Linked DNA regions of Homo sapiens. The protein of the gene in region 2 purifies or fractionates together with the protein of the main gene of each other region. This does not show direct contact. Each region holds a gene or a part of one and is shown on either strand. Other genes may lie near its edges.

Evidence for each region. The genes of interacting proteins can lie anywhere in the genome.
Region 1: the proteins of RP2 (region 2) and QSOX1 purify together in Homo sapiens (affinity purification with mass spectrometry; 3 studies listed by BioGRID and IntAct, with this or other methods). This does not show direct contact.
Region 3: the proteins of RP2 (region 2) and SYMPK purify together in Homo sapiens (affinity purification with mass spectrometry; 3 studies listed by BioGRID and IntAct, with this or other methods). This does not show direct contact.
Region 4: the proteins of RP2 (region 2) and GLMN purify together in Homo sapiens (affinity purification with mass spectrometry; 3 studies listed by BioGRID and IntAct, with this or other methods). This does not show direct contact.

The regions. Positions count from the first base shown.
Region 1 is NC_000001.11:180,199,869-180,202,199, reverse strand, and holds part of QSOX1 (sulfhydryl oxidase 1 isoform a precursor), read right to left. Parts: 3' UTR 1-2,331. UniProt on the Homo sapiens protein: Catalyzes the oxidation of sulfhydryl groups in peptide and protein thiols to disulfides with the reduction of oxygen to hydrogen peroxide. Plays a role in disulfide bond formation in a variety of extracellular proteins.
Region 2 is NC_000023.11:46,875,043-46,878,542, reverse strand, and holds part of RP2 (protein XRP2), read right to left. Parts: intron 1,039-3,500; coding exon 953-1,038; intron 1-952. UniProt on the Homo sapiens protein: Acts as a GTPase-activating protein (GAP) involved in trafficking between the Golgi and the ciliary membrane.
Region 3 is NC_000019.10:45,814,910-45,818,147, forward strand, and holds the end of SYMPK (symplekin), read right to left. Parts: intron 3,238-3,238; coding exon 3,050-3,237; intron 2,066-3,049; coding exon 1,889-2,065; intron 1,706-1,888; coding exon of another isoform or gene 1,669-1,705; coding exon 1,573-1,668; intron 1,275-1,572; coding exon 942-1,274; intron 789-941; coding exon 651-788; 3' UTR 501-650; downstream 1-500. Other genes in the region: RSPH6A (radial spoke head protein 6 homolog A), read right to left, coding at 1-267. UniProt on the Homo sapiens protein: Scaffold protein that functions as a component of a multimolecular complex involved in histone mRNA 3'-end processing. Specific component of the tight junction (TJ) plaque, but might not be an exclusively junctional component. May have a house-keeping rule.
Region 4 is NC_000001.11:92,288,988-92,292,487, forward strand, and holds part of GLMN (glomulin), read right to left. Parts: intron 2,551-3,500; coding exon 2,431-2,550; intron 1,344-2,430; exon of another isoform or gene 1,320-1,343; coding exon 1,211-1,319; intron 165-1,210; coding exon 1-164.

The DNA of each region.
Region 1 (2,331 bases), on a different chromosome or scaffold from region 2:
ATGTTCCCTGAGTCCTCCTCACCTAAGTAAGGTCAATGCCCCCATGGACTGCCCCTTAACTTTGTTCTCTCACATTGGCAAAGGTCTCCTCCTCTGCCTTGTGATTTCCAGACTCTCTTCCACTGTGACCCAGGCCTGGCACAAACCCCCTGGGCAGCAGTGCAACCTGGAGTGATGGGGCCAGTGAGGGTGGCCAGAGAGACTCAGCCGGCAGCTATGCAGTCCAACTGACCCTCGCCGAGGCCACTGGCTCCCACGGCCATTGGTGAGTGAGTTACAGGGAATTCTTCTGCAGGGCAGAGGCCAAGGCTGCGAGTGGGGCCTCCTCTGCAGCAAACAGTGAACTGTGTCACCGAGACCCCAGGAACTGGGGTCCCATGGCCCAGCCCCTCTCTATGGAGAAGACTGTGCTGCTGGGGCCAGGCAGAGGGCAGAGGCCCAGGGTGGGAGAGGAAGGGATGAGAGGGCAGCTTCTTACCCTCTTGGGTGTGAATGACCCTTGAGGGCAGCAGAGAAAGGGAAAGCAAGGGTCAGAGACAGGCCAGGTGTGACATCCAGGAGAAGCCAGGGCTCTGTCCTGCACAACAGCATGCCTGAGGAGGGACAAGGAGTCAGGTATGAAGATTAAATTGCTCCTCTTGAAGTTTGGTTTAGTTCTTAAAGCTAGGGGTGGGAATCCTATCGCCCTGCCCAAGGAGCACCTTTCAGAGGTGGTGGAGGGAGGGGTGAAAGGGGTGTTGAAGGGGAAGAGGAGGGATGCTGTGGAAGGATACTGGGCCCACCCTGGAGCTTCCTTGGCACCTGAGGGAGAATGAGGCAGTGATGGGGCTGCAGAGGCCTATGGGGCGCTCTGCCCCAAGACTGTCAGGCTGGTGTGAGTGAGCTCTCCCCTCTCACACCTGGCCCGGGATTCTATCAGGATATTGATCTTATAGGCTGTGATTTCCTCTGGCCAAGAATCCTTTCTCTGGAAGGCCCTGCAGGAAAAACCTCTCCTCTCCACTCTACATGTAGCTGGCAATACATGGATGGGAATCCCAGGAAGAGGGAGAGGAATTTAGCAGGGACCCGCAAACTAAGTCTGCGGCCCCAATTTCACAGACGAGCTGAGCCAAGGTCACGCCCAACGAACCTGGTTTCTTCCCCTCCTTCAAACGAGGCCTAAAAACAAGGACCCGAGACAGGGCACTTCAGCCTCGATGTAGGGAATGGAGCGAGAGCTCTAGAAAAGGCGGATTCCTTCAGGGTGTCCCCACTCCTTGACACCAACACACAACAGTGGTTACTGCCACTGTTGGAGGGAAGAAGGGCTGGCACCCAGCAGCACCACCATATAAAGTCTCAGGAAAGTGTGTAACTCTACCGATGGAACAGGACATGAAACAGAATCACATGTGTTAGAAGGGGTAGAGACTGCAGCTCCAGGGTTGAGTGGGTGGGATCTGGGGTCAAGTCCTGGATCTACCTCTCACCATTTGGGAGAATAGGGCAAATGTATTTATTTTGGTGGGAGTAAAGGGGATAGGATGTTTCTTAATCTCTTTAAGCCTCAGCTTCTTCATCTTGCGTTGTTGGAGGATTAAATGAGATTTAAATGAGTGCAAAGTTCAATAAATCATACACATCAATTCTCCAACAGCATACACATTTCAGGCATTTTAGGAGCCCCATCTCATGAAGGAAATCCATACTACTGTGGCAGATGGGGGTGGGGAGGCACTTTCCACTCAACACCTCAGTTCAACTCTGGCCAGTGGCACCTGCCGGGGTGGCTTGGGGCTTGCCACCTGGAGGCCCAGCTCCAGGGACACCCTTCACAGAATATCCTGTGGGAACGGCACCCCCCTCCAAGCACAACAGGGCCCCTTGAGTTTTCAGGTATCAAGACAGGAGACGACACGACATGAGCAGTGGGCTACCATTATTAAGCACTTAGTGTTTGCCCAGCATGGTACAACAATCTGGTAGGTGGGTAGTTTATCTCCAATGACACATGGGGACAAGGGGATAAGTTATCTTGCCCAAAGTCACACAGCCAGTGAGTGTTGGAAGCTGGATTCAAACCCAGACGTCAGATTCCAGAGTCCATTCTCTTCAAGGCTGGACTTGACCCCACCCTGACCCAGGGCCCAGATTTGAGGGCTCTCTCTGAGCCCACCTGACTTTCCTCCAGGGTCAAGGCTGGCTGGGTCCCCTGGAGCCCTCTCCTCCACCCCCACACCCAGAGGACAGGCTGCATCAGGGGTCTTCCCACCCCCACCCCATACCAAGGCTGCTGGAGAGGAGCCTGGCCCAAGGTGGCGCTGCCCCTCTTGGACCTCCAAGAATGCC
Region 2 (3,500 bases):
ATGTCCTCCCAGGTATTTATCAAAAAGTAGTCAATTATAGATTTGCTAATGTAATCCTCTATGTTTGGTTTTAAATTTATTTATGTCTGCAATTCTTAGATACAGCAACTTCATCAATATATTTAGAAAATGCCTACATGTGATGATTTCTTTTTTTTTTTTTTTTGAGACAGAGTCTCGCTCTGTCGCCCAGGCTGGAGTGCAGTGGCGGGATCTCGGCTCACTGCAAGCTCCGCCTCCCGGGTTCACGCCATTCTCCTGCCTCAGCCTCCCAAGCAGCTGGGACTACAGGCGCCCGCCACTACGCCCGGCTAATTTTTTTTTGTATTTTTAGTAGAGACGGGGTTTCACCGTTTTAGCCGGGATGGTCTCGATCTCCTGACCTCGTGATCCGCCCACCTCGGCCTCCCAAAGTGCTGGGATTACAGGCGTGAGCCACCGCGCCCGGCCTACATGTGATGATTTCTATGTATATCTGAAGTTCAATTTTTGGTGAAGCATTACTGAAGCAAGTAAAAATGAACCCTGGGCGTAAAAATGAACCCTGGGCAACAGAATCGTCCATCTAAAGACTATAATCTTAGAAATAAAATATTTTCAACAAATCAGTATTTTTAAAAATGCAAAGACTTGAAAAGACATTTGATGAGACTTTTTACTTTAGAAACATATACTATAGAAGGTTTTTAATAAATAGATTCTTATTTTGTAATTATTTTAAACAATTAAAGTTTAGTTTGGCAAGAAAAAAATCACAGCTTAGTTCCCAATTATTTATCAAAGGTTCTAAAAATCATGATCTGCTTTAAACACACACACACACACACACACACACACACCCCAAAAATTCCAAGCAACATTAGGGACAAAAGTATTAAAGTATTATTTGACTGTAAGGAAAAGGAGATGAAATGAAAAGTTAGATTGAAATACAGTCAATAAAATCTTGTACCTTGGTCCCATTGAATATCTCGTTTACAATAAGTTGACATACTTCTACAGCACCATCCCCATTAAACTCCAAGGCAATAACAGGACCTATAAGCAAACCCAAGAAACATTTTCTTAACACAAATACAAATATATTCTAAATTTAATCTTTTTATTCTTCCCTGAAGAATCTCCAGCATCTTCTTTGAGGGTGAAAGAGAAGGAAGAGGAAAGCAGACAGATGGGACATATCACCTCAGCTGCTTCTTCCTACGCTAATCATAAAACAAATTAACACAGTCTCATAACAAGTAGCTTCAGTACTATTATAGGACTAGTGTCACATTTTTAAAGTGTTGTAAATAGTCTGGCTTTTCTGGTTCTCATTCTTCTATAAAAACCACAGAAATTCTACTCATTTAGGAGTATAAAAATAGTTGATAAAATAGCAAATAAGATCAAAAGCAATCCAAGTCAACATAAGTAGGTTTTGCCAGGCAGCCAGCCTTGCTTCCAACTCTCCTACTTACCAGCCAAGTTCTAGGCCACCAATAATGAAGCTAAGCCAAATAAGAATTGAGGCCAGGCACCAAAAGTGATGACCATCTGAAAGTATTTTCCTTGAGTGTGTCTTAAAGCTACATTCTAGAAACATAGACAAAGTTTTTATTTTTTAATCCTTTTAATAGAATATCTGTGCCTCCTTTCTCATACATTAATTTGAAAACATTAAAAACCTCCTACAGTGATGGAAAAGTCTTGATCTCCAGGAAATTACAAATGTATTGAAAGAAGACATAAACCCATTAAACAAATACAAACCAACACAGAATAATGAAGTACGAAGTAATGAAATACTAGAGTGAATGAATATGAAACACTAAATTGAATGTAACCGTGTGCTGCAGTACAAGGTACAAGAATGAGAAAGAAAAGGTTACACTACATTGGGCATCAAGATAACTGAAGGCTTGTGATTTTTTTTTTCTTGGAGGCTTGTGATATAATACAGGCAACAAATACAGAAAAGGCAGGATATAGTGGTCCCTAGGTATCTGCAAGGATTGGTTCCATTTGTTGCTCAAATCCCTTATATATTAATAAAATGGTATAGTATTTGCATATAACTTATGCACATCCTCCTGTATACTTTATTAAAAATGTATTAAAATTTCTTTTAGAGATAGAATCTCACGGCTGGGCACAGTGGTTCATGCTTGTAATCGTAGAATTTTGGGAGGCCTAGGCAGGAGGATCACAAGCCCTGGAGTTGAAGACCAGCCTAGGCAACAAAGCAAGACCCCGTCTCTACAAAAAATTAAAAAATTAGCTGGGTGCAGGGTCACAGGCCTGTAGTCCCAGCTACTCGAGGGACTGAGATGGAAAGATCACTTGACCCCAGGAGTTTGAGGTTATAGCAAGCCATGATCAAGCCACTGCACTCTAGCCTGGACAACAGAGCGAGACCATGTCTCAAAAAAAAAATAGATATGGGGTCTCACTATGTTGCTCAGTCTGGTCTCAAACTCTTGGCCTCAAGCAATCCTCTTGCCTTCAGCCCTGGCCAGGAGTTCAAGAACATATTGTAATAAAACATCTAACCTTACAAAAGAAAAGCTTAAAATCTTAAATTTTTATTTAGAAATATCAATGTAAACTCATGATCTTTTCCTTTTTAAAAATACATAGTTTCTAGCTATGTCCACTGAAAAAGCTTAAAAGAAATGACAACCCAGTAATACATAGCACCTAACATGTATTTCTAAATATCATTCCCCACTAAAAATAACTAAGTAATCTTAGAAAAATAGATGATTCCATGTCTGGGGCAAGAAATGGATTAAGGTCAATGTGGAATATTTTCTTCAGCCAAAAAGTAATGAAGCTATCAAAGGCCAGTGGGGTTCTATCAAAAGGAGACAGAAGCCAGCCTGAAGGGGCTCCCAATGGCCAAAGATGAGACATAGTGAAACAGAAGGAATAATGACTCTGATTTATTAAAATTAATATATAAAAAGTCATGAGTTCATAATGATACTTAGAGAGATCCTCCTTACTACCAGATATTTTTAAGGAAAATAAAAAAAGAAGAGAGAAACAAAATTCACTGTATACCAATGGAGGTTGCTAGGGCACCAATTCACTACTCTGAAAATTGATGCTTATTTTTCTCTTTATTTATTCTGCTTTTCTGACATGAAGCATATTTCAAGTTAACCAAACAGCTCTGGCATACGAGGAGTTCTGTTAACATCTGTTAATAAATGCAGAGGTAGTGACAAGATTAAAAAGTAAGTTTGCTAAAAAAAAAAAAAAAGAAAGAAAATACAGAAAACAGTCATTTTGCAACGCCTATTAAAACAATTGGTTCAGGCAACAATCATCAATGGTTTTAGCATCCCACAGAGAAGACTGCAGGAAACTCTACAATAAAAAGAGAAGGTCGTCACCGTGTAAACCCAACCATTAAATCTTAGTATCCCTAAAAGTACAACAATCAAACATTATGTGCCTTCTCAATTAATGCAACAGGAAACAGTACCATCTATGTATTCCTGCCAAAAAAAATT
Region 3 (3,238 bases), on a different chromosome or scaffold from region 2:
AGATGGGTACTCCATGCCACCCAGCCGGGCTTCCTCAGCCTGGAAGACCTGGGGCATCAGCAAGTTCTCCTGTTGGGACAGGCTGCCCCTCTGTGACCAACCAGGGGCGTTTCGCTGGGCGTCTGGAGGTATCTGCTGCCTCTCCTCGGGGTCCGCTGCCAGGGCCTGAGCTTGGTCCCGACTGTGCCGCCTCTGGGAGGCCTGAGAAGTCCTCCGGCCCGGAGGCTGCTGGGCAGGGCGCTCAGGGTAGGGCGGCAGGTCTCCCATGGTTCGCCAGGAGGCACAGATCTCTAGGAGAAAGGCTTGCAGACAAGGAGGCCAAGCGAGAGCCACCTGTCGACACCGCCGGTTTCTGAGCACCGAGAGAGGGGGCCGTTACCCGTGGAGGGCGCGGGGAGCGGGCCAGGGTGGGTTCCGCGCAGGCTCTGGGCGCGCACTCCCGATCCCGCGCAGCCCCACGGTGGACGTCGCGCCAGACTCGAGACGGCACCCGCGCCCCAGGCCCGCCATCCCTTTTTTTTTTTCTTTTCAGTAACTTGCCCAAGTTCACATCTTTTATTTCTTTTTAAGGCAAAGCACCCGCAGGTCAAGCCCCGCCCCGTCCCCCAGCCCCGAGTCCCTGTCCCACCCCCTTTCCCCCTCGAGCCCCGTCAGCTGTTCCCCTTGGCCTCGGGTTCCCTGGCGTCCTCGGCAGCCGGGCTGGGAGTCTTCATAGCATCTTCTCCAACAGGTGCGAGGGTCTGGGGGCTCCGCTCCTCCTTCAAGGTCAGCCCGCCCGCTGCCGTCTCCTGGTGACCGGGGAAGGAAAGGGCAGCCGGGTGGAGGGCGCGGTCACCTCCACGCTCCCCTTCAGGCCCTGCCCCCTGATGGCCCCTCCTCCCCCACCTTCACCCCGGCCCAGATCCGGCTTCTTCCTTCGCAGCGGAGGCTGCTCTCCCTACCTTGGGTAGGGGGCCCTCGAGACTAGAGTCCAACAGCGCGGCCTCGGTCAGCCCCGAGTCGTCATCCATGCTGATGAAGATGCCCGGGGTCTCGCACTCAGGCCCCTCCTCCCGGAAATCCATGGCTTCCTCAGACGGGGGCGGGCCTGGCCGGGCCGACGGAGAGGGAGAGGGGGAGGAAGAGGAGGGGGCTCCCACTCCTCCCGGCTTCAGCTTCTGTTCCTCCTCCAGCTGCCGCTTTAAGGCCTTCTCCTGGGCCAGTCGCAGGCCGATGAGGTCCTGAGGGGGCCGGGGTGCTGGGGCCGGGGCCAAGGTCAGGGGCTCCAGATCATCCTGGGGATAGGGAGGGCCACACAGAAGCTCAGAGGTGGGTGGCTCAGAGGACGGCCGGAAAGAGAAGGAACCACCCTGAGGTGGTCTTTGAGTTCTTCACCAAGAGCATGGGGAGGAAGGGGCAGTTGTCCCCCAGACCCCCAACTCCCAGCAGGAGCATCCCCTGGGAGACGGGTGGCCCAGAGGCAGGGGTGGCCTGAGTCTCTCGGGGTCAGGAGGAGGCCATGGTGAGCCTTGCTGGCTTGGGGTAGGGGGTGGGAGTCTGGGGATCCAGATGGGTGGGCTGCAGGGCCCTCACCTCCTCCAAGGGCCCCGCAGGCGCCTCCTTGGCCTCTGGCTCCTGCTTGCCGCTGGCCTCCAAGATGGTCATGATGGAGTTAGGGATGTGAGCTTGCTGGGTGGAGAGCAGGAAGGGGGCGCTGGGGGCAGCTCTGGCACAGAGACCCCATTTGCACACCTCAGGTCCGGGGGCCCTAACCCTCCAGAACTCCCAGCAGTGCAGGGCCTTCTTGTGTCCGCCTCCATCCAGTCCCCACCAACCAGAGGGACCCAGGGGGCCGCCCACCGCACACCCTGGGTGGGGGGAAAGGGTACCTGGTGGGGGGAAGGGGTACCTGGTGGGGGGTGAAGGAGCGGACATGGGCCAGCAGGGGCTCCCGGAGCTCTGGGCACTTGTCAAAGACGGCTCCCAGCTGCTGGGGCGGCAGCTGCAGGATGACCTGGAAGCTCTGGGGCTTTGTGCGCTGGCAGCACTTGATGAAGCCCTCCCACACCTTGGGGTACTTCCACACCTGAACCAGGGAGGGAGGGAGCCGTCGGGAGAGGCACACAGGCATCCCCCCGAGCCTTGACACTGGGAGAAAGACCTTGCCAAGACCATGCCCAAATCCCACCATCCAAGATTCCTCTGGATGGGCAACAAGCAGCCCCGACCTCCCTCCAGAGGCCTTTGTCTTCCCGATCCAGGCGGCTGGACCACGAGGGCAACTTGGGAAGGGGGTGGAAGAAAACTCAGCCGCCTTTTACCAGAGCTCCCCCTGGGCCAGGCCCAGGCTAAGTGCTGCGGGAGCACCTCTCATGACATTCTCACGGCAGCCTCCAGGGGGCGAAATTACCCCTGCTAAACAGCGGAGGTCCGTGCCGGTGCCGGGACCTGTCCTGGGTCACATGTACATTCTCACCGCAGCCTCCAGGGGGCGACATTAGTCCTGCGGGGTTTGGTTTTTTTGTTCTCTTTTTTTTTTTTTTTTTTTTTTTTTTTTGAGAGATGGTCTTACTCTGCCGCCCAGGCTAGAGTGCAGTGAGTGGCGCGTTTCTTCCTCACTGCAGCCCCAAACTCCTGGGCTCAAGCAGTCCTCCTGTCTCGGCCTCCCAAAGAGTTGGCATTACAGGTGTGAACCATCACACCTGGCCTTATCGTGGTATTTCTAAAGCCCAAATTTCTAGCACCTCTTAAAAAACTGGGCCATTTTTCAGCTCTGGGATGCATCCTGGCCGGGCACACAGCGGTGGAGGGTGAGGAGCAGCCATGCCTCTCCCGGGTGCACACCCCTTGAGGGTTACCACAGCTCCTACCACCCAGCTGCCCTCCCTCATCACCTGGGAGCTGGCCCAGTCATACACCCTGGAGCACTGCTATTTTCTTGGCAGGAGGCAGAGCAGAGCCTGCTGTCCTCCACCGGGCTCCCTCCGGGGTCAGACGGGGGAAGGGGAGGGCAAGCAGGCTAGAAGCTGCTGTCTGCAGCCTGGAGGCGGGGTGGCCGGGGATGGGTTACCTGCTTCATGATGAGGCGGGACAGGATGTTCATGACGAAGCCCCCCAGGCGGGGGTACATGGTCAGGGACTGGATGACGGTCCTCATGAGCAGCATGGGCAGGGGGCTCTGCTCCATCAGCTGCTGCATCACCACGGCCAGCACCTCTGACGTGTACACGTTCCGCTCCGCAAAGCACAGGTTGGTGGC
Region 4 (3,500 bases), on a different chromosome or scaffold from region 2:
AGGCTTAGTGAACTCTATTAAGGCCTTGCAACACTGACAAAGGCCATAGTCATCCATTTGTATTTGTTCTTTTGAGTATGGAACAGGAAGAAGAGATAGCTGATTCCAAAGGGTAGACAATGCTAATCCAATTGAATATGCCTTGTTATGAAGTTTCTGAATCACTAAAACAGAGATCAAGTTGTCGCTCATCAAGTATGCTAAACATGGGACAAGAAATTCGGCAAATGTGGAATTATAAGACACTTCCTCCTCCCACATTTTAACAACTCTTGAATCAAGATGACACATCACAGTCTAATTGGCAGTGTTTTTTTCTTCTTAGTTGTGCATAAAATAATACAGCATCTTGCCATGAAATGCTGTTTAGGTTATGTTTATAACAGACTATGTGTAACAGGCTATGTACTTAAGACAGAAACATGTTCTTTCCATGTTTTTGGGTTGTTATAAGCACAAAATATAAGTGTATTGTAAACTATAAAGCACTACACAAATAGGAGGTGGTATTATTAGATTTTTTTTCCCTAGAAGACTGAATATTACAGGTAGTATGAAGCTGGCAGGCATTCATATTTAAAACAAATTTAATTTCTGATTCTAGGTCCCTCTATCAGATTGTGAGATAAACGAATTTCCTAAAATGAAAAATAACCTCTTCCTATGGATACTGTCTGCCTTGGTTGCTAAGACCCATTACCTACCAATACTGTTACTGCACTCAGCCATGGAGCCTTATCATCCCATATCTCCTCGTTTCATTCTTCAGTAGTAGCTTTGCTATGCCCAATCCAACCTCCCAAAGCAGAGGCTGAGCAATGCCTTGCCTGATACTCTTCCAGACTACCATAATGCTATCAGATTTAGTACTGCAGACACCACAGAGGTAACCCTTGAAACATGTTTAGAGAGAAAATTCTAGATTTAAGCAGCAGATAGGAAGGTTAGGCAAAAAGGTATAGTTTTCAATATAGCACATGAAAAATAGTATGACATTCAACAGAATATTTACTGGGTACCCACTCTGGCCAGATACTATAATCTTTCTATGAGCAGCAGTATTCACATTGGCATTGCTATTATTGGTTTAAGCAGAGTACTCACTAATTAGCTGTAAACTTTACTTTGGTGTAGTATTGACATTTTGAGGTAACCATCAAGGCATTTAGAGATACAACAAGAAGTACTCTGATATCAAAATTCTCATTACCTGTTTGTAATGGCTGAAGCAAAAGAAGAATACTTTGGGATATCTGTTTTCCAGAGGGCTCTTCAATCAGTTCAAGCAAACCCAACAATAATTCCTTTGGATTGCATAACTATAAAAATATTCACAATTGAACCTGTTTAATACAAGTTGTATTTAAAGCCACATTATTACTATTTTTAAGAAGGCATGTATCGACAAAATATTATACAATTATGTTTTTGCTTAACATTAAAATTATTTATACAATTGTTGAAAAAATATGCATGAGCAAAACACAGAATCTGTGATGGTCAAGTAACTATAAAACTAAAAAGCAAGAAGTCAATGGATCTTTAGGCTCAGGTTTCCTTTGAGCTTCACCTGTCCACTCTGAAATTGCCTTAACAGATTCTCAGGGGCTCCAGCAGGTGGGACCTTTCAATCCCATGCTGCAAGCCTATTTAGACTAGTCTGGAATCTCTTTTGTATTTTTTGAACAGGTAAAACTTTGCATTGCTTTCTGACTGGCCATATCTTATCATCTCACTTGACTGGTTTTTTAAAAGCTCCCAGCTCCCATAGTCAATAACTCATACAGATGGAGCTCTCCTTCCAATATATATTTGGGTATATTTGCACTGATCACTAAACAGTTTCTTATAATATACTTTTTCTCAGAATTTATCTTTCTTGGCCATCAAATATTGACTGTAAACTCTACTAGCCTTTTACCCAGGGTCGCTTTCTAAGGTTGTTAGTCACAACTGATCTGTATTCTACCCTATTCCTACTTCAATTTTAATCACTTGTATTCTAGGCCTTCCATTTTCTTTTAGGGAACATACCACAAAGGAAAGAGGACTGAGATTTTAATCTAGTTCCAATGTTGCCAAAAGATAAATGTGACCTTGAACTACCTCTCTAAAGCTTGTATTCCACATCTATACGATAAGGCTACTTGTTAAGATATAGCTTCCCAGGTCTCTCCCTGGAGATGCTGAATCAATGGGTCCGATATGAGGTTAATATGAGGTTAGACAATTCTTTTATCCAGAAAATTTGGGAAATCCTGAAATGGAATTGCCTATCCAATCAATAAGACTGGGTCTTTTCTCCAACGAGTTCCTTTCTGCATGTACTTTCATGAACCAAAAGCTTTCTTACCAAACAATAAACATTAAAGGGAATTATAAAATACTGCTGTGTGTTATGATAAAGAGAACCTTGTTTTGTTAACTTACCTTTACCAATAAATCAAAGATCAAAAAATAAACTTTTCTTTTACTATCCTCTTTATCTTTACACAAAAGGCATCGAACAACAGGACCAACGAGATTCCAGCCCATATTCTTGATGATGACCTGTAAAAACATTTTCAGAGTAAAGCAAACACTGCCATCTATAGGACTCTCGCAGTGTGCTTTCCTATCTTGGAAGAGCTCAGAATTGTTTCTGAAATAGGAAGATGAGACAAGTGAAGCCTATGACATTTCACCAGAGACTTTCCAGGGTTGGCTACTAACAGACATCAACATTTTTAAATAGTTTTTAATATGTTCCCTGAGGAAAGGCAAAAGGGTCTTTACTTTTTATCAGGCAAGTTGGTGTTTCCCAAGATTTAAATAGTGCCTCTATTTCCAACAAAAGAGTTAATTTGCTTAATACAGGTACTTAACTTCCACAGACAATTTTGCTCCCCTTATTCATAAAGAAATCCAGCCAATGCTCATGTACCTTTTAAAGTTCTTGGAGTCTCTAAATATAATCCTTGTAATTTATAAAAAAAAGAAGGGATACAACTTCATTAATTTTCTCTCCTACATACAAGTGGCTTCTATGTTCAAAGATATTTCAGAATGCTTACCATACAAGTAAAAGTTTATCTTTATAATGACTAATTCACATTCATTATCAAAACCACTAATTCTCAAAGGATCAACAATGTATTCCACTTCTCTGGCCTGCTTTGTATTTTAACTCATCAGTATTTACCAAGCCTACACTATAATATTCTAGAGGTTAGAAATAAAGTGAGGAACACACTGGATAAGATCACTACCCTCCTAGAGTCCTTCTTTAAAAGCACGGTGGTTGGCTGGGTGCAGTGGCTCATGTCTCTAATCCCAGCACCTTAGGAGGCTGAGGCAGGAGGATCACTTGAGCCCAGGAGTTTGAGACCAGCCTGGGCAACCTAGTGAGACCCTGTCTCTGTTTTTTAAAGTTAAATACATTCTTATTTATTTATTTATTTTGAAACTGAGTCTCGCTCTGTCGCCCAGGCTGGAGTGCAGTGGCGCTGTCCCAGCTCACT